Linked DNA regions of Homo sapiens. The protein of the gene in region 6 interacts with the protein of the main gene of each other region in a pairwise test. Each region holds a gene or a part of one and is shown on either strand. Other genes may lie near its edges.

Evidence for each region.
Region 1: the proteins of COIL (region 6) and PREPL interact in a two-hybrid assay, tested with the Homo sapiens proteins (one large-scale study listed by BioGRID and IntAct).
Region 2: the proteins of COIL (region 6) and KALRN interact in a two-hybrid assay, tested with the Homo sapiens proteins (one large-scale study listed by BioGRID and IntAct).
Region 3: the proteins of COIL (region 6) and TFCP2 interact in a two-hybrid assay, tested with the Homo sapiens proteins (one large-scale study listed by BioGRID and IntAct).
Region 4: the proteins of COIL (region 6) and CYB5R2 interact in a two-hybrid assay, tested with the Homo sapiens proteins (one large-scale study listed by BioGRID and IntAct).
Region 5: the proteins of COIL (region 6) and ZBTB25 interact in a two-hybrid assay, tested with the Homo sapiens proteins (one large-scale study listed by BioGRID and IntAct).
Region 7: the proteins of COIL (region 6) and KAZN interact in a two-hybrid assay, tested with the Homo sapiens proteins (one large-scale study listed by BioGRID and IntAct).

The regions. Positions count from the first base shown.
Region 1 is NC_000002.12:44,317,101-44,320,317, forward strand, and holds the end of PREPL (prolyl endopeptidase-like), read right to left. Parts: coding exon of another isoform or gene 3,099-3,217; 3' UTR 1,096-3,098; coding exon of another isoform or gene 1,018-1,095; 3' UTR 507-1,017; downstream 1-506. Other genes in the region: amino acid transporter heavy chain SLC3A1, read left to right, coding at 3,099-3,217. UniProt on the Homo sapiens protein: Serine peptidase whose precise substrate specificity remains unclear. Does not cleave peptides after a arginine or lysine residue. Regulates trans-Golgi network morphology and sorting by regulating the membrane binding of the AP-1 complex.
Region 2 is NC_000003.12:124,724,580-124,726,831, forward strand, and holds the end of KALRN (kalirin), read left to right. Parts: 3' UTR 1-1,746; downstream 1,747-2,252. UniProt on the Homo sapiens protein: Promotes the exchange of GDP by GTP. Activates specific Rho GTPase family members, thereby inducing various signaling mechanisms that regulate neuronal shape, growth, and plasticity, through their effects on the actin cytoskeleton.
Region 3 is NC_000012.12:51,107,127-51,110,649, reverse strand, and holds part of TFCP2 (alpha-globin transcription factor CP2), read left to right. Parts: intron 1-1,376; coding exon 1,377-1,529; intron 1,530-3,303; coding exon 3,304-3,414; intron 3,415-3,523.
Region 4 is NC_000011.10:7,664,598-7,667,569, reverse strand, and holds the end of CYB5R2 (NADH-cytochrome b5 reductase 2), read left to right. Parts: intron 1-265; exon of another isoform or gene 266-958; coding exon of another isoform or gene 959-1,015; intron 1,016-1,019; coding exon 1,020-1,119; coding exon of another isoform or gene 1,120-1,183; intron 1,184-1,630; coding exon of another isoform or gene 1,631-1,730; exon of another isoform or gene 1,731-1,743; intron 1,744-2,023; coding exon 2,024-2,196; 3' UTR 2,197-2,466; downstream 2,467-2,972. UniProt on the Homo sapiens protein: NADH-cytochrome b5 reductases are involved in desaturation and elongation of fatty acids, cholesterol biosynthesis, drug metabolism, and, in erythrocyte, methemoglobin reduction.
Region 5 is NC_000014.9:64,497,323-64,500,845, forward strand, and holds part of ZBTB25 (zinc finger and BTB domain-containing protein 25), read right to left. Parts: intron 3,132-3,523; exon of another isoform or gene 2,119-3,131; intron 671-2,118; exon of another isoform or gene 611-670; intron 1-610. UniProt on the Homo sapiens protein: May be involved in transcriptional regulation.
Region 6 is NC_000017.11:56,947,548-56,951,070, reverse strand, and holds part of COIL (coilin), read left to right. Parts: intron 1-74; coding exon 75-1,182; intron 1,183-1,303; coding exon 1,304-1,390; intron 1,391-1,636; coding exon 1,637-1,684; intron 1,685-3,523. UniProt on the Homo sapiens protein: Component of nuclear coiled bodies, also known as Cajal bodies or CBs, which are involved in the modification and assembly of nucleoplasmic snRNPs.
Region 7 is NC_000001.11:15,102,173-15,105,695, forward strand, and holds part of KAZN (kazrin), read left to right. Parts: intron 1-1,186; coding exon 1,187-1,288; intron 1,289-1,850; coding exon 1,851-2,017; intron 2,018-3,523. UniProt on the Homo sapiens protein: Component of the cornified envelope of keratinocytes. May be involved in the interplay between adherens junctions and desmosomes. The function in the nucleus is not known.

The DNA.
Region 1 (3,217 bases), on a different chromosome or scaffold from region 6:
GAGTAACTCTAGATTTGAGCTGTTCAGTAGCCATTAACCACTGTGACTATTACATTAAATAGAATTAAACATTTAGTTCCTGCTGGGTATGGTGGCTCACGCCTATAATCCCAGCACTTTGGGAGGCCAAGACTGGAGGATCACTTGATCCTAGGAGTTTGAGACCAGCCTAGGCAACATAGTAAGACCCTATCTATCTCTTAAGAAAAAAATTAGCTGGGCATAGTGGCACACACCTGTAGTCCCAACTACTCAGGAGGCTGAGGTGGGAGGATCACTTGAGCCCAGGATGTTGAGGCTGCAGTGAGCCATGATCATGCCACTGCACTCCAGCTTGGGCAACAGAGGGAGATTGTGTCAAAAAAAAAAAAAAAATTCAGTTCCCATGTCATAGCAACACTTCAAGTGCTCATTAGCTGCCATATTGGATGGCTCTGATATAGAACATTTCCAGCATTACAGAAAGTTCTATTGGCCAGCATTGTTCTAGACATTGAGAAACATTATTTTCAAGTGGTCATAATTTTAATGGTAAAATTAGGACATAAAAATAATTTTCAAAGAATTATTTTCAAAGAACACTAGACATAAAATATAACAATTTTCAAATTTTCAAAGAATACTAGAAGAAAAAAATTATACAGTCAATCCAACAAAAAGCTTAATAGAAAAAAACCCTAAACAATAGTATAACTACAAATAAAATAGGGCTTCCGAATTATGTCTAAATAATACAATAATTACAAATATGAATGGGTTAAATTAGCCTATTAAAAGATAAAACCACTCAGATAACAAAAACAGACATAAGAAACACTAACATAAAACACAAAGAATTAAAATGAAGATATAGCAAGCAAATAATAGAAAGCTTGCAACCCAGCTATAGCTATAAACACAAAAAATGAAGTTATCTTTTGACCTAATAATTCCATTCCTAATACTTAGAAATATTTGCACATGTGCACAATAATACTTAAAGGATCTCAACACTGTTTTTTTTTTTTTTTGAGACAGTCTTGCTCCGTCACCCATGCTCGAGTGCAGTGGCGTGATCTCGGCACACTGCAGCCTCTGCTTCCTGGGTTCAAGTGATTCTCCTGCTGCAGCCTCCCAAGTAGCTGGGATTACAGGTGCACGTCATTATGCCCGGGTAATTTCTGTATTTTTTAGTAGAGATGGTGTTTCACCATGTTGGCCAGGCTGGTCTTGAACTCCTGACCTCTGGTGATCTGTCTGCCTTGCCTCCCAAAGTGCTAGGATTACGGGCCTGAGCCACCTTGCCTGGCCTGCAAAATTTGTTTTTAATAGAAGACACAAGAAATGATTTAAATATTTTATCAACAGAAAACCAGTTCTATCAACTATGGGCCCAGTATGCAGCTTTTAAAAATGACAGTTCTATATACATTGATATGAGACCATTTCAAACAGGTATTCAATAAAGTATAGAATGGTAACATATCACCAACTGTGTAAAGAAAAATATATAAACATATGAAATGATACATTCTGTGCCTATGCAAACATATGATACATTAAAAACAAAAGAACATATAGTGCCTGTCTCTGAGGGGAACTGTGAAGCTATGGAAAGGTGTTGAAGAAAACCTTTTTATAGTATGTATTCTTGTAATTGAATAAAAAATAAAATTACAAAAATCAGGCTTGGAAGTATTTAATAGCAGACAAAATATAGTTCAATATGAAAAGCATTATATGAGACAAAGGCAATTTTCAAAAATTGATAAAACATTCCACCAAAAATCATGACTACGCATCTAACAGCTTCAAAATATAGAAAATACTCAAATGCAAAATCAACAAATCTGCAATTACAGAAAAAGACTTCAACATACTTTTAGAAAGTAGTAACTCAAGTAGACAATAATAGCTAACACTTACCGGGCACTTCTTATGTGAGTGGCACTGAAACATGTGCTTTCATGCATTACCTAAGGCTAGAGAAAATGTTAATAACTTAGACAAGTCATACATGTATCATAAATATCTTTGTACCTGACAAACAGAATAAACATCTTTTTAAACACCATTAGATAATTATTTAAAGACCACATATTGGGAACCTACCCCTAAAGAACAATAACAACCACAATAACAACTATCACCCCAGTAAACATGGCTGGCAAGAATACAATTAAATGAACATTATCACTGATTTGGCAACAGCTCTTATGAAGAATAATTTGGCATTATGTATCAAGTGCCCATACTCTTTGACAAAGTAACTGTCTTTCTGATAATCTATCTTAAGTAATACAAAAATGGGGGGAGGGGAATAAAAATACAAAATATTAGAAACACTATCGTCAAAATGAAAGGGCATGGCTGAGTATGGTACAACCGTTCAACAGAATATTGTCATTAAAAACATTTATGGAGGCTATATTATATAGTCAATAACAGAAAATGCTTGAAAGGTTAGAAGTACATCATCAAATTATGTTTTATATAGCTGTAAAATAAACCCAAATCATCTTTAATGAACACATACTATTATGGTAAAAAAAAGTCTACAATTTCTAACTTTCACCTTAGGCAGCTTTTTATTTTGCATCCTTTTTTTCAACTTTGTCTTCTATTAGCTGTGCAAGAAATACATGTCTGCTAAAGTTACACGATCTTCGCACAACAGCAACCTACACATTAGTCTACAAAGGGGAACAAACCCAAATTCCTCAGAAGTCTGAGTCCACTGTTGCCTTCTTTCTGGCCATCTGGCAGTTACAATATAGCACAGAATGACTATGCAAGTTAAATATTCATCTTAGACATGGACATTTGCTTTGGGACTCCTAAAGTGGAGTCAAATTTGATCTCTACAGAAACTCTACAATGTAGCAGAGCACTGTGCGTACTTATTGACTCCCAGACAAGCCGAAACCCCGAATTTGTCATTTCTATCAGTTTTTATATAAATTGTTCTTACCTACTTATTGATGCTTACAATTTGGCAATTATAAGGGGCAAAATTGGAGCAAGTGTTTTGGGTAAATAACTCCTTACAATATATTAAAAATACTTACAAACAATTCTTAGAATCAAACACTTACGTAAATACTTTTTTAAAAAAATAGGTCCAAAAGACTCAGCCCAGATCGGCTTTGAAGTTATATCAAGATTTAAGTCTACTTCATGCCAATGAGCTACTCCTCAACAGGGGCTGGTTTTGCCATTTGAGGAATGACAGCCACTA
Region 2 (2,252 bases), on a different chromosome or scaffold from region 6:
TTTATTTTCTAAAAATATTAAGGCTCTCAGTTGTTTCATTAATTCTAAAGGGTTAAAAAGGGCTGAAATTTGTTTATAGCACTAAATGTTTTTAATAGGAAATTTACTCACATAAAAAATTTAAGCAGAAGTAGTAGAATACAGATTATCATAAAACATATTTTCTATGAAAGGCATTTCTTCCTCATCTTCAATAAATATGAAGAAGTTAGAGGAGAGGAAAAAGCAATCACTCTAAGACAACTTTTCGTCTTTGAGGGACATTATGATAAGCCTGAAATTAATACGCACAGGCTATTGCATTTTTCTGTGAGAAATGTGCCCCTTTGCTGTGAGATTCTAAAATGTGTTCAGATTTAGTTTTTATTCAAATGATCAAGATAACGCATTAGTTAGATAACTGCTATTTCAGATAGTGAGGTTAGCTGAGAAAAGGAAGCATGGTAGAAGAAATGCAAATAACAATTCTTGGAATGCCAACTCCTGAGGCTTAGTTTAACCAAGCTAATTTGTTGGCCCAGGGATGGCCATCATATGAGTTTCCATCAATACCTGACTTCCATCAACAACTGAATCCATGTTCTGGAGTATTACAGAGACTGTTACTATGACCTCAAAGACTGTGGCTACGAATCTGAAGTTAACAAGACATACATCTTCTCTTACTAACTTAAGCCATATCTGTCAACTCTATGTTTGATTTTTCTGACCCTGGTGCTTTTACTTCTGTTTCTGCCAAACTTCAGCCTACTCTATGGGGAAGGTGAGTAAAACTAGTAGTTAGAACAAATATGAAGACTGAAAAAAACTAAACATACTCTTCATAATGAGATCCTGTTCAGAGAACAGTAGTGATCAAAGTGCAAACTGTTGGAAAATATGGATATATGTACATCTGTACATGTATATAGTGTATAATATGTATGTATATGTTATTGCTCATATGCAGAAATCTATCCATTTGCAGACAGCCCAGGTGGGTCAATGTTTCTAATGGAAAACCATTTAGGGCCATTCAAAACCATTAGGGCTAATTTGTGGAGACGAATTCTACTCATTCTGGAATTAATTTGCTGTCTTTTGACATCCACAAAGCCAAACTAACAAAGTGTGAAACATAAAGGGGCCATCATTTAGTTTATTCTGTTTATCTGGACTTATAACTATCTTTACATTTGAACTATTAATAGTTGATTTGCAAACTGTATTGGCATCTCTTGGTTTTGAGTGACCCCTGCCCCCCTCAAGTCTTTTGAGAATTTGGAGTGGGCTTCACTGGCCATTCAGACAAAGGGCCTTATTCATAAGTGGACAGGTTTCCCCATAGGGACCATCGCACATATACATATAAGTACATACTTCCATCAGGCTTGTAACAATTGATTTAAAATCACTCCACAGTATTGATAAATAGCTCTATATTTTCAAGGTGCAGAAGAATTCCACAGCCTTAATTATTTCAGTGTCTTGCTGGTCTGCCTTAAGTGTATCTTCTGGGTTTTTGGTTATTTTATTATTTTTAAATTTTTCTGCTGTTGTTCATTTTGTATGCACACAATGTCGTTTTGTAAAGGTAGGTTGTAAATATTTTATTTGTAAGTCAAAATCACTCATGTGTAATGTTGTAAAGTGATGACCTGCTGTCTTGTTACTGCTACAGTAAATGTTATAAGTTATGGATGAAACTTCAAAATGTACATCTCACATGTTATGCATTCCTATAAATATACTATACTAAAGATACTATATGGTTGTCTCTTTTTTCCTAATTAAACCTTTGTTCAAAGAAAAGAGTAATTTTTTTCTTTCTCCAAATATATGAAAGACTTAGAAAAGGTAAAAATATCACAGGATTATTACAACATGTTTGGCCCAGGATTTTAGAGAGAAAGCAACAATTTTGTGCCCTAGAGTATTCTAAGGCATTTACCCAAAAATGCCAAGGAAACCTCAGAGCCAGGTGTGGTGGCTAGCACCTGTAAATCCTAACACTTTGAAAGGCCAAAGTGGAAGGATCTCTTGAGCCCAGGAGTTTGACACCAGCCTGGACAAAATAAGGAGACACCCACGTCCCCCCAACCCCCCACATATTAAAAATTGTTTTAAAAATATTAACTGAGTGTGTTGGTGCATGCCTGTGATCCCATCTACTTGGGAGGCTGAGGTGGAAGCATCATCTGAACCCGGGAGGTAGAAGCTACAGTGAGCTGTGATTATGCTACCTCACTCTAGCCTGGGCAACAAAGTGAGAC
Region 3 (3,523 bases), on a different chromosome or scaffold from region 6:
GCATAATATTTCATTTCTTGGTTGTACCATAATTTACATAACAATTATTTGGCAGTTAGATTGGCATAATTTTTTTGGGGGGGGACAGTGTCTAGGCTTTGTCTCCCAATCTGGAGTGGAGTGGTGCAATCTCGGCTCACTACAACCTCTGCCTCCCAGTTCAAGCGATTCTCTTGCCTCAGCCTCACCAGTAGCTGGGACTAGAGGCGCATGTCACCATGCCTGGCTAATTTTTGTATTTTTGGTAGAGGTGGGATTTCGCCATGCTAGCCAGGCTGGTCTTGAACTCCTGACCTCAGGTGACCCACCCACCTTGGCCTCCCAAAGTGCTGGGATTATAGGTGTGAGCCACCATGCCCGGCCTTGATTGGCCTGATTTTTTACTATTATCTGTGATGTTATTTTGAACATATTTATACTTAAAATTTGATTTGCGTATCTGATTATGTTCTTTGGGTAGAGTCCTTGAAAATCCTTATTTGTAGTAATTATAGTAACCACTAGTTTATTAATACTTCACATGAAATAGTCACTATGTTAAGTAAACACTTTATATATATGATTTTAAGACTTTCAGCTATAATCTTGTGGAGTAGTCAGTCAGACAAGGTTCTTCTATTAAGATTCACCAGGCTGGGTGCCGTGGCTCACACCTGTAATCCCAGCACTTTGGGAGGCCGAGGCAGGCAGATCACCTGAGGTCAGGAGTTCGAGACCAGCCTGGCCAACATGGCGAAAACCTGTCTCTACTAAAAATGCAAAAATTAGCAGGGCGTGGTGGTGTGTGCCTGTAATCCCAGCTATTTGGGAGGCTGAGGCAGGAGAATTGCTTGAACCGGGGAGGTGGAGGTTGCGGTGAGCCGAGATTGTGCCATTGCATTCCAGCCTGGGTGACAAGAGCAAAACTTAGTCTCAAAAAAAAAAAAAAAAAAAATTCACCAATCTTAGACTTTATGCAGTAGCCAAGCAAACCTTTTTCTCCACTATTGCTGTGAACTTTCATATTTACTATGTTCCCAGACTGGGTAGTGACTCCTCTTTCTACAATCTTCCTTAAAATTGAGGAAACTTTAACTAACATAAATCATTTCTCTTTTGCTAGCTCTGTGTTCTTTGAAGCAGTTAATGAATTTAGTTCCTCACAGTAGCTTTTGTTAGCATTAGATCTGTACTTTTATTTTGTTTGCATTTGTAAAGCATTTTTCTATTTCCTCTATCAGATTGTAAGTTCTTCAAGATCAAAAAGAGGAAAAGTGTTTTTTGTAGGTATTCATAATGCCTGGTAAAGGTTTTGCTGTTAATAGTTGCTAAAAAAATACTGCCAACTGGTTTGGCTAGCTAGCGGTACTGAAGCCTTGCTGTTGTATTCTTTTCAGGTGCACTGTATTAGCACAGAGTTCACTATGAGGAAACATGGTGGAGAAAAGGGGGTGCCATTCCGAGTACAAATAGATACCTTCAAGGAGAATGAAAACGGGGAATATACTGAGCACTTACACTCGGCCAGCTGCCAGATCAAAGTTTTCAAGGTATTCCTGGGCAATGTGCTGGCCCTTGGATTCTTTTACCTTATCATTCTATTTTAACATTAGTTACCAAGTCAGAAAATCAACTTGTCTTTTTTTGAAAACTCACACACACGCAAAAAGTCTAAGCTAGAGTCATTGAAATAATTACCAAGATGCCTGGTAAAGAAATTTACATGGTCGTAGGATAATAGGAACTTGGAAAAGAGGGCTAGAGGCAAGAACATGGATTCTCATTGAAAGCTCTTAAAGCCTATTGAAGTTACAAGCTCTTGTAAAGCTCACAAAAATTGACTAGTTATGGTTATTTTCATACTTGATCTTTTCTTATTTGGTCTTATTTATTTATTTATTTATTTTTGAGACTGGGTTTCATTTTGTCACCCAGGCTGGAGTGCAGTGACGCAATCATAGTTTAACCTCCTGGGCTCAATTGATCTTCCTGCCTCAGCTTCCCCAGTAAGTGGGACTACAGGCATGTGCCACCACACCGGGCTAATTTTTGTATTTTTTATAGAGAGGGGGTCTTGCCATGTTGCCCAGGCTGGCCTTGAACTCCCGGGCTTAAGTTATCTGCCCTCCTTGGCCTCCCAAAGTACTGGGATTACAGGTGTAAGCCACTGTGCCCCAGCCAGGGTCCTGTTTATTTTTATCACATGAATAAATATGTTCTCATTGTAAGAGATTGAATAATACAGAGGTATTCATAGCAACACTGAAATTCTCCCTTTACTACTCTTACACTGACCCCCTCCACAACCTCTTCCCAGAGGAAACCACTGTCATAATTTCATAATTTCGTATGTGTTCTTCTACTTCCCTCTTCTTTTTTTTTTTTGAGTCGGAGTTTCACTCTGTCACCCAGGCTGGAATGCAGTGGTGCAGTGCCAGCTCACTGCAACCTCCGTCTCCTGGGTTCAAGCTGTTCTCACGCCTCAGCCTCCCCAGCACCTAGGACTACAGGCACACACCACCATGCCCAGCTAATTTTTTGTATTTTTAGTAGAGACAGGGTTTCGCCATGTTGGCCAGGCTGGTCTCGAACTCCTGACCTCAGGCAATCCGCCTGCCTCGGCCTCCCAAAGTGCTGGGATTACAGGCATGAGCCACTGCGCCCAGCTCTTCTAGTTCCTTCCTATGCTTTTATACACACACATACATAGCTATATACATATTTTCTTTGACACATAAATGGGATTATACTATTTGAAATGTTTTGAGGCTAGGCACGGTGGCTCATGCCTGTAATCCCAGCACTTTGGGAGGCCGAGGTGGGCGGATCACAAGGTCAGGAGTTTAAGACCAGCCTGACCAAAATGGTGAAACCCCGTCTCTACTAAAGATAAAAAATTAGCTGGGTGTGGTGGCGGACGCCTGTAGTCCCAGCTACTGGGGAGGCTGAGGCAGGAGAATAATTTGAACCCTGGAGGCGGAGGTTGCAGTGAGCCAAGATCTCGCCACCGCATTCCAGCTTGTGTGACAGGATGAGACTCCGTCTCAAAAAAAAAAGAAAGAAATGTTTTGAGACTTGATTTTTTTCAGTGAACTATGTGCTTTAGAGATCTTTCCATGTCAGTAGCTATAGATCTGATTCTTTTCAACTCCATCGAATATAAACATTTAAATTTCCTATTTTCAAACTTAAAGTGATGTGTCTTGCCTTTACATCACTGCACATACAATTTTGTTTCATACATGAATATTTAAGTTTTTGGAAGCAATATTTTGGGTTAAAAGGTGAGTACCTGAATTTAAAACAAAATATTTCTCATTTCAGCCCAAAGGTGCAGACAGAAAGCAAAAAACGGATAGGGAAAAAATGGAGAAACGAACACCTCATGAAAAGGAGAAATATCAGCCTTCCTATGAGACAACCATACTCACAGAGGTAAAAAGATTTCTTTTGGTGACAATTTCAGTTCATAATTTTTAATCTTAAAAATTCATCACTTCCAAACTGGTCAGAATTTACTTCTCCTAAGCCTTGAGGGACACAG
Region 4 (2,972 bases), on a different chromosome or scaffold from region 6:
TGAGTCCAGGCCTGCTTTTTGCATGTATTTAACTCTTTTGTGTCTCCTCAGCCAGCCCTAAGCACTAAGCATTCCTTTTTTCCTTAAGATGTACTGCTGTATTTTTGCTAAGTGTAAAATCACAGATGTCCTCAGTGGACACTTCAGAAAATACAGAATATAAATATTTACTTACTTTTTAAATCTTTTTTCTATATATGTTATATATTTGTAATTTATATATGCTTTTTTTTTTTCACTCAGCATTACCACAACAGGCATTTTCTTCTCTTTAAGATGCTTTATAAATATTTTCATCATAGTTTTTATCAAGTTGCACTATAATTTACTAACTTCCACATTCAGGCTGTTTTCAGTTCTAAATAATATGGTGATGAATAATTGTGCCTACGCTTGATTACTTTTAGATTATTTTCTAAAACAGAATCCCAGAAGTGGAATGACTGGGATGAGAATCATGAGGAGTTTTAAGATCCAGGTCTTCTGTGCAGTTATCTTTGAGGCTGTGACAGGTTATTTTTGGCTTTGGTTCCCTTTCCCCCAAATGGGGCTCCAGACTGTTTTCCTCTCCTTCACATATCCAGTGCTGTTCTATCACAGGACTTTCTGAGCCCATTACATTTCTTCCAGAAGATCCTGGGCCTGCACTGAGCTTGTTCCAGTTAGGTTTGCTGTGCTAGAGCTCAGTGTAGATGTAGGAGGCAGGGCTGGAGCTCCGAGTGAAGCCATCCTGGCCAGCGCTTGGCTAAGGTCCTTCTAGTTGGAGGCGGTCACTGCAGCTCCATGGGAACCTACATCCCATGGAGGTTCTTCATCCACATGGAGGAACTTCATCCACAAAACAAAGGGTTTGAGCTTCAGGAGCAGCAGCAGAACTCTTGTTTGCCGTGGGAGTTGGCAGCGAGCACTCCAGCTGGAGTGGTGGCAGCTTTGGCCAGGAGTATGCTGACCGGTGTAGTCAGTCCAGGGAACAAGAGGATGGCCCTGGAGGGGCTTTTTCAGTGTTGCTTCTTTTCTAGACAGAGGAGGATATCTTGGTCAGAAAAGAGCTTGAAGAAATTGCCAGGACTCACCCAGACCAGTTCAACCTGTGGTACACCCTGGACAGGCCTCCCATTGGTACGACATCCATTGCCCTCACTCACCATGGGTCAGCACCAACCCTTGACCACTTTGAGGACTGGTCTCTGTCTCTTTGTTTTGTTTTAGTTTTGTAGGACCAGATGTGGGGGTTAAGCCTGGGGCTCTGGCTCCAGATGGGAAATGTGAGAAATTGAGGGAGAAAGGATTTGGGATGGCCTGCTTTTAAGGGCAATCGAGAGCAGGTGTCTAATACATCAGCAGCACCTCACGCTGCACTGAACATCAAAAGGGACACTGCCCCTGTCCACTGTGAACACCCACCCATTCCACACAGCCATCACATACACATCTAATATGGGCACTGACCCCTTCACCACTCACCCTTCTGCTTACGGCCACCACACCCCTTACCGCCCACCTCACCTGGACATGCTGAGCCCCCAGACAGCTGCTGCAGCCCAGACAGCATCCCAGCAACCACTGTGCACAGAGCACCCCACAGGCGCGCCTCTCACACTGCTCCCGGCTGTACCTGCTTGTCATACAGGTCCCTGGTCGGCAGAGGGCGCTACCCTACTGAGCAATTCTGCGCAGTTCCACTAACACCAGGCCACACCCTGCCGGACAACTCCAGCTGGCTGTACTGATTCACACACCTCGGTATACCTCGTTGTGTTCTCCTTCCTCGTCAATGCTGACAGCTGACAGACAGCAGCAGGGCTTCAGGGTCCCTGCAGTGAGCCTGGGACCTGGGGTGATTGCTGCAGAGGGCTGTTTACTAGTTCTGAGGCTTTTTGCAGGGAGCAGTAGTACAGACTTCTAAGCCTTTGTAGAGCAGCTTGTCACCTCCTCCCTGGCTGAGGGTGGGTGTGCAGGCGGCCTGGGATCAGGAACTCCACCTGGCATCGCTCAGCTTGCTCCTGCATCTCCTTCATTTCAGGCTGGAAGTACAGCTCAGGCTTCGTTACTGCCGACATGATCAAGGAGCACCTTCCTCCTCCAGCGAAGTCCACGCTCATCCTGGTGTGTGGCCCGCCACCACTAATCCAGACGGCGGCTCACCCTAACCTGGAGAAGCTGGGTTATACCCAGGACATGATTTTCACCTACTAACACCTCCACGTGCTCAGCAATTTTGCATGTCCCTTTTCATCTGTTTCAGAGTAAGTTCAATTTCACCACGGTAAACTGGGATGTTTTCAAAAGTGCCTTGCCATGTACCTTCGCGCACACACTGGTTCTCCTCTTTTGGGTGTGGGCCTAACAAAAAGGGCTCAAGGGGCTGGAGACTGGCTGCTGGGGCCTCCTTGCTTGGAGGCTGGAAAGAGCTCCATTTCAGTATCTTTCTCCGTGGTTTTGTGAAATAAACTCAAGTACAAAGCAGACAGCCCATGAAGTGTGGCTCTGTGGGGGACGTGCTAGGCAGTCAGGAGGCCGTGGCCTGGCCTGTGAGTTGGCTTCTGCATGCCCATGGGGGTCACAACTGGCAAGTGTCGGGGCAGTTCCTAAAAAACTCCAAGTGGGGTCACATCAACTCTCAAGAATCTCTCCATGGCACTAGGGGTCATGGTAGGAGTGGTTACACACAGAAACTTCTCAACTTTCAAAGTCAGGTTCCAGAAACTGCCTTAAATCCTTTGTATCATGAAACCCAAACGAGGGTCTGTCGGGGTGGGGGGGAGGGACAGCCAACCTCACCCATCCCCCTGTTCACTGTCTCCTTGGGGATCCTTCACTGCTTTCAAGGGAGACCCCACTCTGGCCACCCCCATCTCTCCAGGACACACTCCAGGGCCTGGCTCCCAAGGCCCTTCTTGGTTTGCTCCTGCCGACTTTATCAGATTTTTCTTTCCCTGGGCCCCCAACTCCGACCCCATTCTCTCACCTAC
Region 5 (3,523 bases), on a different chromosome or scaffold from region 6:
ATTAGCTAGACTTTTTGTATAGCCTTTGCTCATCATTCTTTGACTGTCTATTTTATTTTCTCTAGTATGTGAAATAGCTAAAGTTTCCCATGAATACAGAAAGAGCTTAGAAGTTACATTTGAGAATTTCTGGTGAGAATTTTAAGATGTGAGAGAAATTATGGAAAAATAAAGTATTTTATTATACTTATAAATACCAGAATCAAAATATGAGTGCTACATTTTTAAAAGTTTTATCTGTTATCAAAGTGATACATTATCATAATAGTTTTAGCATTGATATTTAAGAGATTACAAAAACCTTCTTTACCTTCTAGATTGTAGTAACTCTGGATTACTTCAAATTAAGATGGAACAACTTTATACTAGTATCTATGTTTGTTTAAAGCTGGCTTGATATTCAATACATATCTTTGATTCTTATGTATTTAGAAAAATCTACTGTACTAGACTGGACTCTCAGATCTATGGTAGCCAGCCGGATATCCTGGACTACACAGCTCTTCATTCTCTCAGGCTGTAAGAATCCTTAATAAAAAAGGAACAAAAAGAGCAAGACGACTGTTTCTGTAGGAAAACAGTCTTAGGTATTTTCTCTGTCAATGCTTACCACTGAGACTTTATGATGAATTTTCATTCAGACAAGGAGACAGGAAAGTTGGCAGAGGAATATGTACATCTTTTTTGAGCTACTTACTCATGGCTATAAATACAAAGGCAAAAGCAAAATATTTCAAGTGCCATATGATAAAAGACTTTATATAGCGACTAACTTTTTAATGGAACTTTCACATGACTGTAGAGGTGTGACATTTAATTATGTAGAGAATGAAACAATGTTTGTAGAAATCATTTTATCCTGAAACAGAGGTTCTTATTGCTGACTATACTGTAAAACCTTCTATGCAGAGCTGTATTGATGTCTGAGTCCCAACCCAGGCTTAGCCCAAACAGAATTGAATTGCTAGGGGTGAGGCACAGATTCTTTTTTTTTTTTTTTTGAGACAGAGTCTCGCTCTGTCGCCCAGGCTGCAGGCTGGAGTGCAATGGCGCGATCTCGGCTCAATGCAACCTCCGCCTCCTGGGTTCAAGTGCTTCTCCCGGACTCAGCCTCCTGAGTAGCTGGGATTACAGGTGCCCATCACGCCTGGCTAATTTTTATATTTTTAGTAGAGATGGGGTTTCGCCACGTTGGCCAGGCTGGTCTTGAACTCCTGACCTCAGGCGATCCGCCTGCCTTGGCCTCCCAAAGTGCTGGGATTACAGGCGTAGGCCACTGTTCCCGGCCAGATTGTTTATTTGTTTATTTATTTTTATTTTTATTTTTTTGAGACAGAGTCTCACTCTGTTGCCCAGGCTGGAGTGCAGTGGCACGATCTCGGCTCACTGCAAGCTCCGCCTCCCGGGTTCGCGCCATTCTCCTGCCTCAGCCTCCCGAGTAGCTGGGACTACAGGCGCCCACCACCACACCCAGCTAATTTTTTTGTATTTTTAGTCGAGACGGGGTTTCACTGTGTTAGCCAGGATGGTCTCGATTTCCTGACCTCATGATCCACCCGCCTCGGCCTCCCAAAGTGCTGTGATTACAGGCGTGAGCCACCGCGCCCAGCCCAGATTCTTTTTTTAAAAAGCTTCCCAGGTGATTCTAACGTGACTGCTCAGTTAAGAACCACTGCCTCAGAAGAACACGGGACCAAGGAAACCCAAGAAATTATTTCACACTCTACAATTACATTGATATTTAAGAGACAATAAAAACTTTCTTTACTTTCTAGATTGTATAACTCTGGATTAGTTCAAACTAAGTAAGATAGAACAACTTTATACTAGTCTCTATAAATAAACAATTCCGTAAGAGTGTTCAAAGTATGGAAATTATGTTGACTACATTAAATGAACAAATATAAACAACTGTAATTCTAATTGTAACCTTAAAATATTGGCCAGATTAAGAAACAAAAGTGCTCCATGGCCAGGCATGGTGGCTCGCTCCCAGCACTTTGGGAGGCCGAGGCAGGTGGATTACCTGAGGTCGGGAGTTCGAGACCAGCCTGACCAACATGAAGAAACCCCGTCTCTACTAAAAATACAAAATTAGCCAGGTGTGGTGGCACATACCTATAATCCCGGCTACTCGGGAGGCTGAGGCGGGAGAATCGCTTGAACCCAGGAGGCAGAGGTTGTGGTGAGCTGAGATTGTGTCATTGCACTCCAGTCTGGGCAACAAGAGTGAAACTCCATCTCAAAAAAAAAAAGAAAAAGAAAAAAAAGAATCAAAAGTGCTCCTAAACTGGCAGGATGGGCATGGGTGGGGGGGTGGAGGAACACACTATTTTCAGACTTCTTTTCAAATAGTATTTAGGAAAAAGAAATATTTACTCTCTTACTCCATTACACCTAGATTGGATTTCATAACACCTAAAAATGATACAGAAATTCTAAATCTGAAAATACTGTTTGAGGTAAAATCTGCTGTAATTCCAGACATCTGCTTATTAAGATCTACTGAGAATGTTAGCAAAGAGGGTATGGAGGGGGTAGATGAAACAGGAAGAGTAGTTATGCTCTAGAAACCTTTAATGGAACTGGGAAACGTTAGTTTGGGGCCTCCTGCCTGTTGGCAGACATAGCCAACCTCCAAGCACCTCTAATTCCCATCTAACCAACATTACATTGTAGGATGCCTGATAAAGCCAAGCACACAAGAATACTAACAACAGTAAGCACAAATTGTTAATAGACCTTTAAAAAAAATCAGAACCCGGAGAAAGAAAGGAAAAGATTCCTCTCAGTCCATTAAAGACAAACCAAATTTCTAAAAGAAAAAATAAGGTACTCAAAGGACAGGAGAAAGATGGAAAATTATAATGCTAGTACAGACCTAGAATACAGTACAGGCAAGAGTAACTAAAACTTCTGGATACAAGTAAACCAATACTTCTTTCGCAATGGAAGTATACTCCCATGAACACACTACTCAAGTGGGCTAATAAAAACCTTTGCTTAAAGTGCTTGGAGATTTCAGAAAAAATAAAACATCCATGCATGACTGATTTGTAACCAGAGAAGAAATGAATTAGAAAAATATAAAAAATAACTGAACACTCTAAGCACTTTTTCTCCCAATAAAGCAAAAAAAAAAAAAAAAAAAAAAGAGAGAGAGAGAGAAAGAAAATTCCTGCTAGCAAAGGGAAAGCAGAACGGTAAATAAATGCCTATAATCCCAGCACTTTAGGAGGCCGAGGAGGGTGGATCACCTGAGGTCAGAGTTCAAGACCAGCCTGGCCAATATGGTGAAACCGTCTCTACTAAAAATACAAAAATTAGTTGGGCGTGGTGGCAGACGTCTGTAATCCCAGCTACTTGGGAGGCTGAGGCAGAAGAATTGCCAATAAGGGGGAAAAACTCAAATGTCCATGGATAGTCAAATGGATAAAGAAAACATGGACCAGGCACAGTGGCTCACACCTATAATCCCAGCACTTTGGGAGGCCAAGGTGGGCGGATCACTTGAGGTCAGGAG
Region 6 (3,523 bases):
TCAGTATATAACTATGTCCTGGAGATGTGTTTATAAATTGCTCACTCTAGCTTTCTCTCTTGTTCTTTTGACAGAGTTAAATTAGAAGAGAGAGGAGTTGCTGAGAATTCTGTAGTCATCAGTAATGGTGACATTAATTTATCTCTTAGAAAAGCAAAGAAGCGGGCATTTCAGTTAGAGGAGGGTGAAGAAACTGAACCAGATTGCAAATATTCAAAGAAGCATTGGAAGAGTCGAGAGAACAATAACAATAATGAGAAGGTCTTGGATCTGGAACCAAAAGCTGTCACAGATCAGACTGTCAGCAAAAAAAACAAGAGAAAAAATAAAGCAACCTGTGGCACAGTGGGTGATGATAACGAAGAGGCCAAAAGAAAATCACCAAAGAAAAAGGAGAAATGTGAATATAAAAAAAAGGCTAAGAATCCCAAGTCTCCGAAAGTACAGGCAGTGAAAGACTGGGCCAATCAGAGATGTAGTTCTCCAAAAGGTTCTGCTAGAAACAGCCTTGTTAAAGCCAAAAGGAAAGGTAGTGTAAGCGTTTGCTCAAAAGAGAGTCCCAGTTCCTCCTCGGAGTCTGAATCTTGTGATGAATCTATCAGTGATGGTCCCAGCAAAGTCACTTTGGAGGCCAGAAATTCCTCAGAGAAATTACCAACTGAGTTATCAAAGGAAGAACCCTCTACCAAAAATACAACTGCAGACAAACTGGCTATAAAACTTGGCTTTAGCCTTACCCCCAGCAAGGGCAAGACCTCTGGAACAACATCTTCCAGTTCAGACTCTAGTGCAGAGTCAGACGACCAATGCTTGATGTCATCGAGCACCCCGGAGTGTGCTGCGGGTTTCTTAAAGACAGTAGGCCTTTTTGCAGGAAGAGGTCGTCCAGGCCCAGGGCTGTCATCACAGACTGCAGGTGCTGCTGGATGGAGGCGTTCTGGCTCAAATGGTGGTGGACAGGCTCCTGGTGCTTCTCCCAGTGTGTCTCTCCCTGCTAGTTTAGGAAGAGGATGGGGTAGAGAAGAGAACCTTTTTTCTTGGAAGGGAGCTAAGGGACGGGGCATGCGGGGGAGAGGTCGAGGACGAGGGCATCCTGTTTCCTGTGTTGTAAATAGAAGCACTGACAACCAGAGGCAACAGCAATTAAATGACGTGGTAAAAAATTCATCTACTATTATCCAGGTAAGTATTATTTTTTGTAAGTTATCTCCTCCCTTTCCCCTTAGAATGTGTGTGGAGTTCATGTCATGGATTCACATTTTCTCACCAGTGATGATGTCACATGACTAACACTGTTTTTCAGAATCCAGTAGAGACACCCAAGAAGGACTATAGTCTGTTACCACTGTTAGCAGCTGCCCCTCAAGTTGGAGAAAAGATTGCATTTAAGGTATATTTCAAAAGAACAGTCACAGCAAAAAAGGTTCATTCCCCTTCCAAATAAACTTACTTAGAAAATCAGGTTAAATGTGTTTGTAAAAGCCCTTCCCACTGGAACCCCAGTGTTGTTACGGGTTCCTGGTAGGGCTCCCAGACTGGTCGGGGTGGACACGCCAACATGGCATGATGGAGGAGCTGTGGGAATGGGAGAGGATAAGAGGGCTTATGTATTTGTGGGTTTTTTCTTCTTTTTTAGCTTTTGGAGCTAACATCCAGTTACTCTCCTGATGTCTCTGACTACAAGGTAAGGATGTTTATTTAAAAGTAAGTTGTCAGTGTATTATTAAAACTAAAGTCATATTTAATACTACTTGTATGGATAATACAGATTTGTTTTTTTACTAAATAAAAATGCCAGAAAGTAGAAAATGAAAACATTAATCGAAATGTCAACTCTTTAATAGTATCACTGGGAAGTCTCCCTGTGTTATTTGCCTTATACTTGGGAAGAATAGAGTAGGAGAATGATGAGCTTAATTTTTACTTTTTTAAAAAAAATATATTAATTTTTTGTTTTTAAATAGCGACAGGATCTTGCTATGTTGCCCAGGTTGGTCTCAAACTCCTTGGCTCAAGCAATCCCCCCATCTTGGCTTCCCAAAGTGTTGGGATTACAGGTGTGAGCCACTATGCCCAGCCAGTTTAATTTTTTTAGTTACTTTTTTCTAATTAGTTTAGACCAACTTATTTGGGTATTCATTCCTTCATGATTCTAAACTTTGAAAGAAAATAATAAATAGTTCTCAGCAAGAAGATTTGATTATTTTCATCATGGGAATCTATTTTACATATTTGTGAATTACTTCTGGTTGTTATGATCTAGTATGATTTCTTCTGCATTATCAGGTAACCACAGGTAATTCATAAATATTATCCGTGGAATTTACTTACTTAATATCTGTATGAGTCTTTATATTGGCATGTGAGGTTTTTCATAGTTCAGTAAAAGCTTGACTCAGTCAGAGGGATCACAGAATTACATGTTTCTTTTTCACCCACCAACATTTTGTTGAAAATCTTGTTAAAGTGCATTCTTTCTTTTTTTTGATGTACTATATGGAATGTAAGACCATTTTTTAAGGTAATAATTGGTAGTGTTAATATAGTAACATAGATAAAATACAAGGGAATTTGATTTAATCTGGATTGATGCCTTGGAAGACTTAAAATCTTTATAGAAACCTTTCCTCAAGGCTGGGCTTGGTGGCTCCCACCTGTAATCCCAGCACTTTGGGAGGCCAAGGTGGGTGGATCACGAGATCAGGAGATTGAGACCATCCTGGCTAACACAGTGAAACCCCGTCTCTAGTAAAAATACAAAAAAAAAAATTAGCGGGGCATGGTGGCGGGTGCCTGTAGTCCCAGCTACTCAGGAGGCTGAGGCAGGAGAATGGCGTGAACCCGGGAGGCAGAGCTTGCAGTTAGCTGAGATCACACCACTGCACTCCAGCCTGGGTAACAGAGCGAGACTCCATCTCAAAAAAAAAAAAAAAAAAAATCTTTCCTCAAAAGCAGGCTGGAAGAATCAGTTAATGAAGGGATCTGGTGGGTTAGTTCTAGGTCGTTGGTGTTTTGTTTTTTATCTTCTTAGGCACTTACTATCTCCTATGGATGAGGTGATCATGTAATTTATCACCTGAATCAGGATACTTGTGAGTCAAAGGGATGCTATTAATAGTTATGCTGGAAAGATGTACAGACCTGTCTTGAACAAACCAGGGTGTTTTGTCACCCTACCATAGAAAACATTTAATTGTGTGATATATGAGGAAATGGAAATGAATATTGTATTGATACATCCCACAACCTCTATAAATTGTAATTCTAGATGATACTGATTTTTAAAAATTGCTTATTAATGGCCAGGCACAGTGGCTCATGCCTGTAATCCCAGCACTTTGGGAGGCCAAGGTAGGTGAATCACTTGAGGTCAGGAGTTCGAGACCAGCCTGGCCAACATGGCAAAACCCCATCTCTACTAAAAATATAAAAATGAGCCTGGCATGGTGGCGTGCACCTGTAGCCCCAGCTACTCAGGAGACTGAGGCACAAGAATCACTTGAACGCAGTAGGTGGGGGTTGC
Region 7 (3,523 bases), on a different chromosome or scaffold from region 6:
ACCCAGAGAAGATATACCTACTATGTATACCCACAAAAATTAAAATAAAAATTTTTAAGTGTTTGCTATTTTAAAAAAAAAGAAAAAAAGAAAACCCAGAGAAGTCTTCAGGGGGCTCAGGGATGGCTCCTCAGAGATAGCAACGACTAAATTGAGACCCGAAGGAGGAACCCCAGGGATCAGTAGAAGACATGAGAGAAAAAGTAACCCAGCAGAGGCAACAGTGTGGTGAAGGCCCAGAGGACTGATCCACGGCAGCAGAGTTGCTGAGAGTCCTGTTGGGTGGGGTGCTGGCTTTGAGGTGGGAGGTGGTGGGGGGTTGCTGCAGAGGTCACCAGGGGCCTGAGCTGCTGGGCACTGTGGGGCTGAGTCCAGGTAGCTGACTTTTCTTAGAGTGATGTCAGAACCCAACAATTCAGGGTCAGAAGAGGGACAGAAGAGGGGGCCATCCAGCCTTTTGTCCCCCTTCTCAACCACCCACTGAAAAGCATCCACTGTGTGCCTACTGTGAACCCTGGGGTCAGTCCCTGTGGGACCCAGGGAGGCCTGCGATACGGTGGCGAGATGGTGAGAGAGGACCTGGAATCAGCCAAACATGGGTTTTCATTCCAACTCCAAGACGTGCCACTGTGTGGCTCTGGGCAGTCAGAGCTCCCTGTTAGTGGAGCGAGGACAGCAGCAGTGCCTTCCCCATGCCACGCCGAGGACAGGGAGTGACAAGGACACAGACCCTGGCCCCAGTCCCCAGTCTGCCAAGGAGGCACGTGTGGGAGATCACAGCAGTTACATGTAAAAAGAGGTGCAGGGGCCAGGCCTGGTGGCTCACGCCTGTAATCCCAGCACTCTGGGAGGCCAGGGTGGGTGGATCACAAACAAGGTCAGGAGTTCGAGACCAGCCTGGCCAACATGGTGAAACCCCATCTCTACTAAAAATACAAAAAGAAAGCAGCCCGGTGTGGTGGCAGGTGCCTGTAATCCCAGCTGCTCGGGAAGCTGAGGCAGGAGAATTGCTTGAACCTGGGAGGCGGAGGTTGCAGTGAGCACAGATAGCACCACTGCACTCATGCCTGGGCAGCAGAGAGAGACTCTGTCTCGGGGGGAAAAAGAGATGCGGGGCACCCCCACTCCACACGTGGCCTCTGCGTGTCCCCTTGTCCCTCCGAATGACCCACTGTCTCCCCACAAGGCCCTCCAGGAGCGCCGGGCCCGCTGCGAGACGCAGAACATTGACCCCGTGGTGTGGACCAACCAGCGGGTGCTCAAGTGGGTTCGAGACATCGACCTGAAGGTGAGGGTGATAGCGGAGGTCGGGGTGACTCTCGGGCATACACAAACCCCATGCAAATCTATATGCAAATCAATATGCAAATCACATGCAAATCAATATGCAGATCTCATGCAAATCAATGGGCAAATCCCACACAAATTAATATCCCCTTTGTGTGGGCTGGAGCATCTTAACTCAGGCCCAGCAAGAATTACCTGCCTCCTGTTATTCAGGAGGAGGGAACTGCTTACCTTCCAAATAGGAGCCCCATGTCATGATGCTTTGCTCACATGGGGTAGAGAGGCTGAGCCAGCCCCACTCTCCTAAGCAAGTGTGGGGTTGAGATTCATTTAACAAATATTGATGATTTCCTGCTAGGGTCAGGGACCATCTCAGTAACAGGAGGTCCCTGACCTCGTGGCTCTAAAAAATTGGGGAGGGGTTCCTCTTCACCGTCAAATTAACTGGTCCCCAGGGGGTCAAGCCCTTGCTGTTGGGGACAGAGCCCCACGTGGAACTGGGGCCCCCTTAGGCCAGCAGCATGGCCCCTGCAGGCTAACAAGTCCCCTGCCTTTGCCCCCAGGAGTACGCAGACAACCTGACCAACAGCGGCGTCCATGGTGCTGTGCTGGTGCTGGAGCCCACATTCAATGCCGAGGCCATGGCCACTGCCCTGGGCATCCCCAGTGGGAAGCACATCCTCCGGAGACACCTGGCAGAGGAGATGAGCGCCGTCTTCCACCCAGCCAAGTGAGCACGGGCTGGGATCCAGTCATGTGGGCTGCTGGGTACAGTACAGCTCAGGGCTTTGGAAGCAGATGGTCCAGCTCCCCATCCTGGCCCATCACTTACTGCCTCCCACTCGTTCTTTGCACCATGGTGGTCACCTTTTACAGATCAGGAAACTAAGGCTCAGAGAAGCAAAGTGCTTTAGCCTGAAGGTCATAGACTAGAAAGACGTAGAGGAGCAGTCAGGTCTTGAATTAAGTGTATATTAGATCAAAAAACACCCAGGTGTTTAGAGAAGAGATAGCAAGCAGTGCATGTGTAAGGAAAGGCCACGTGCAGGTGGAGTGTAGCTGGGAGGACTTGCATTGGCCTAATAGGTTGAGTTGGTTGGTCCAGGTGGGGCAACTGTGGGGACAAAGGCTTGGAGTCAGGAATGAGCATATTAATGATGCTTATGGACCAGGTAAGCAGACCACATCAGCCCACCTATCCTAGTATCCCCATCTGAAAAGTGACCAGAGAATGAACACCTGGGCATAAACCAGTCCCCCTCCCAGTGGATTCTCTTCTTAAAATCATGCACTTAGGGTTAGATGACCATTTATTGAATACTTCCTGTGTGAACTATCTAATTTCATCCTCCTGGCAATGTCAAGAGATCAGTAGCACTATCCCTCCTTTATAGATGGAGAAACTTCTTCAAAGGTACCAAGCTATGTGCCCAAGATACACAGCTAGTAAGTGGCAAATCCTAGATTTGTCCTTTATTCTATCAATATGGTGTATTATATTGATTGATTGAATTTCATATGTCAAACCAACCTTGCATTCCCAGGATAAATCTCACTTGGTCACAGTGTATAATCCTTTTTATATATTGCTGGATTAAATTTGTTAGTACTTTGTTGAAAAAATCTGCATCTATATTTATAAGGGATATTGGTCTATAGTTTTCCCTCCTTGTGATGTTTTTGTCTGATTTTGGTATCAGGGTAATATAGCCCTCATAGCATGAATTGGGAAGTATTCTCTCCTCTTCTGGGTTTTGGAAAAGCTTGGAAGGATTGGTGTTTGTTATTCTTTAGACATTTGGTAGAATTCACCAGCGAAGCCATCTGGTCTTAGGCTTTTCTTTCTGGGAAGCTTTTTGACTTCTAATTCAATCTCTTCACTTGTTAGAGGTCTGTTCAGATTTTCTATTTCTTCTTGAGGCAGTTTCAGTAGCTTATATCTTTCTAGGAATTTGTCCATTTCATCTAGGTTAGCTAATCTGGTGGCATGCAGTTGATCATATAATTTTTATCTTATAGTGCCTCTTATATATAAAGTTGGTAGTCATATTCTCTCACTCATTCACTTACTCCTGGTTTTAGTGATCTGAGTTTGAGTTTTGTTTTTTTTTTTAATCAGCCTATCTAAAGGTTTGTTGGTTTTGTTGACAGAGCCCAGATTTGACCTTGGGGCTCTCTAACTCAGGCCTGAGTCCTAAACCCCTAAACCACATGGATCCTTAGGGAGCAGCTGGGC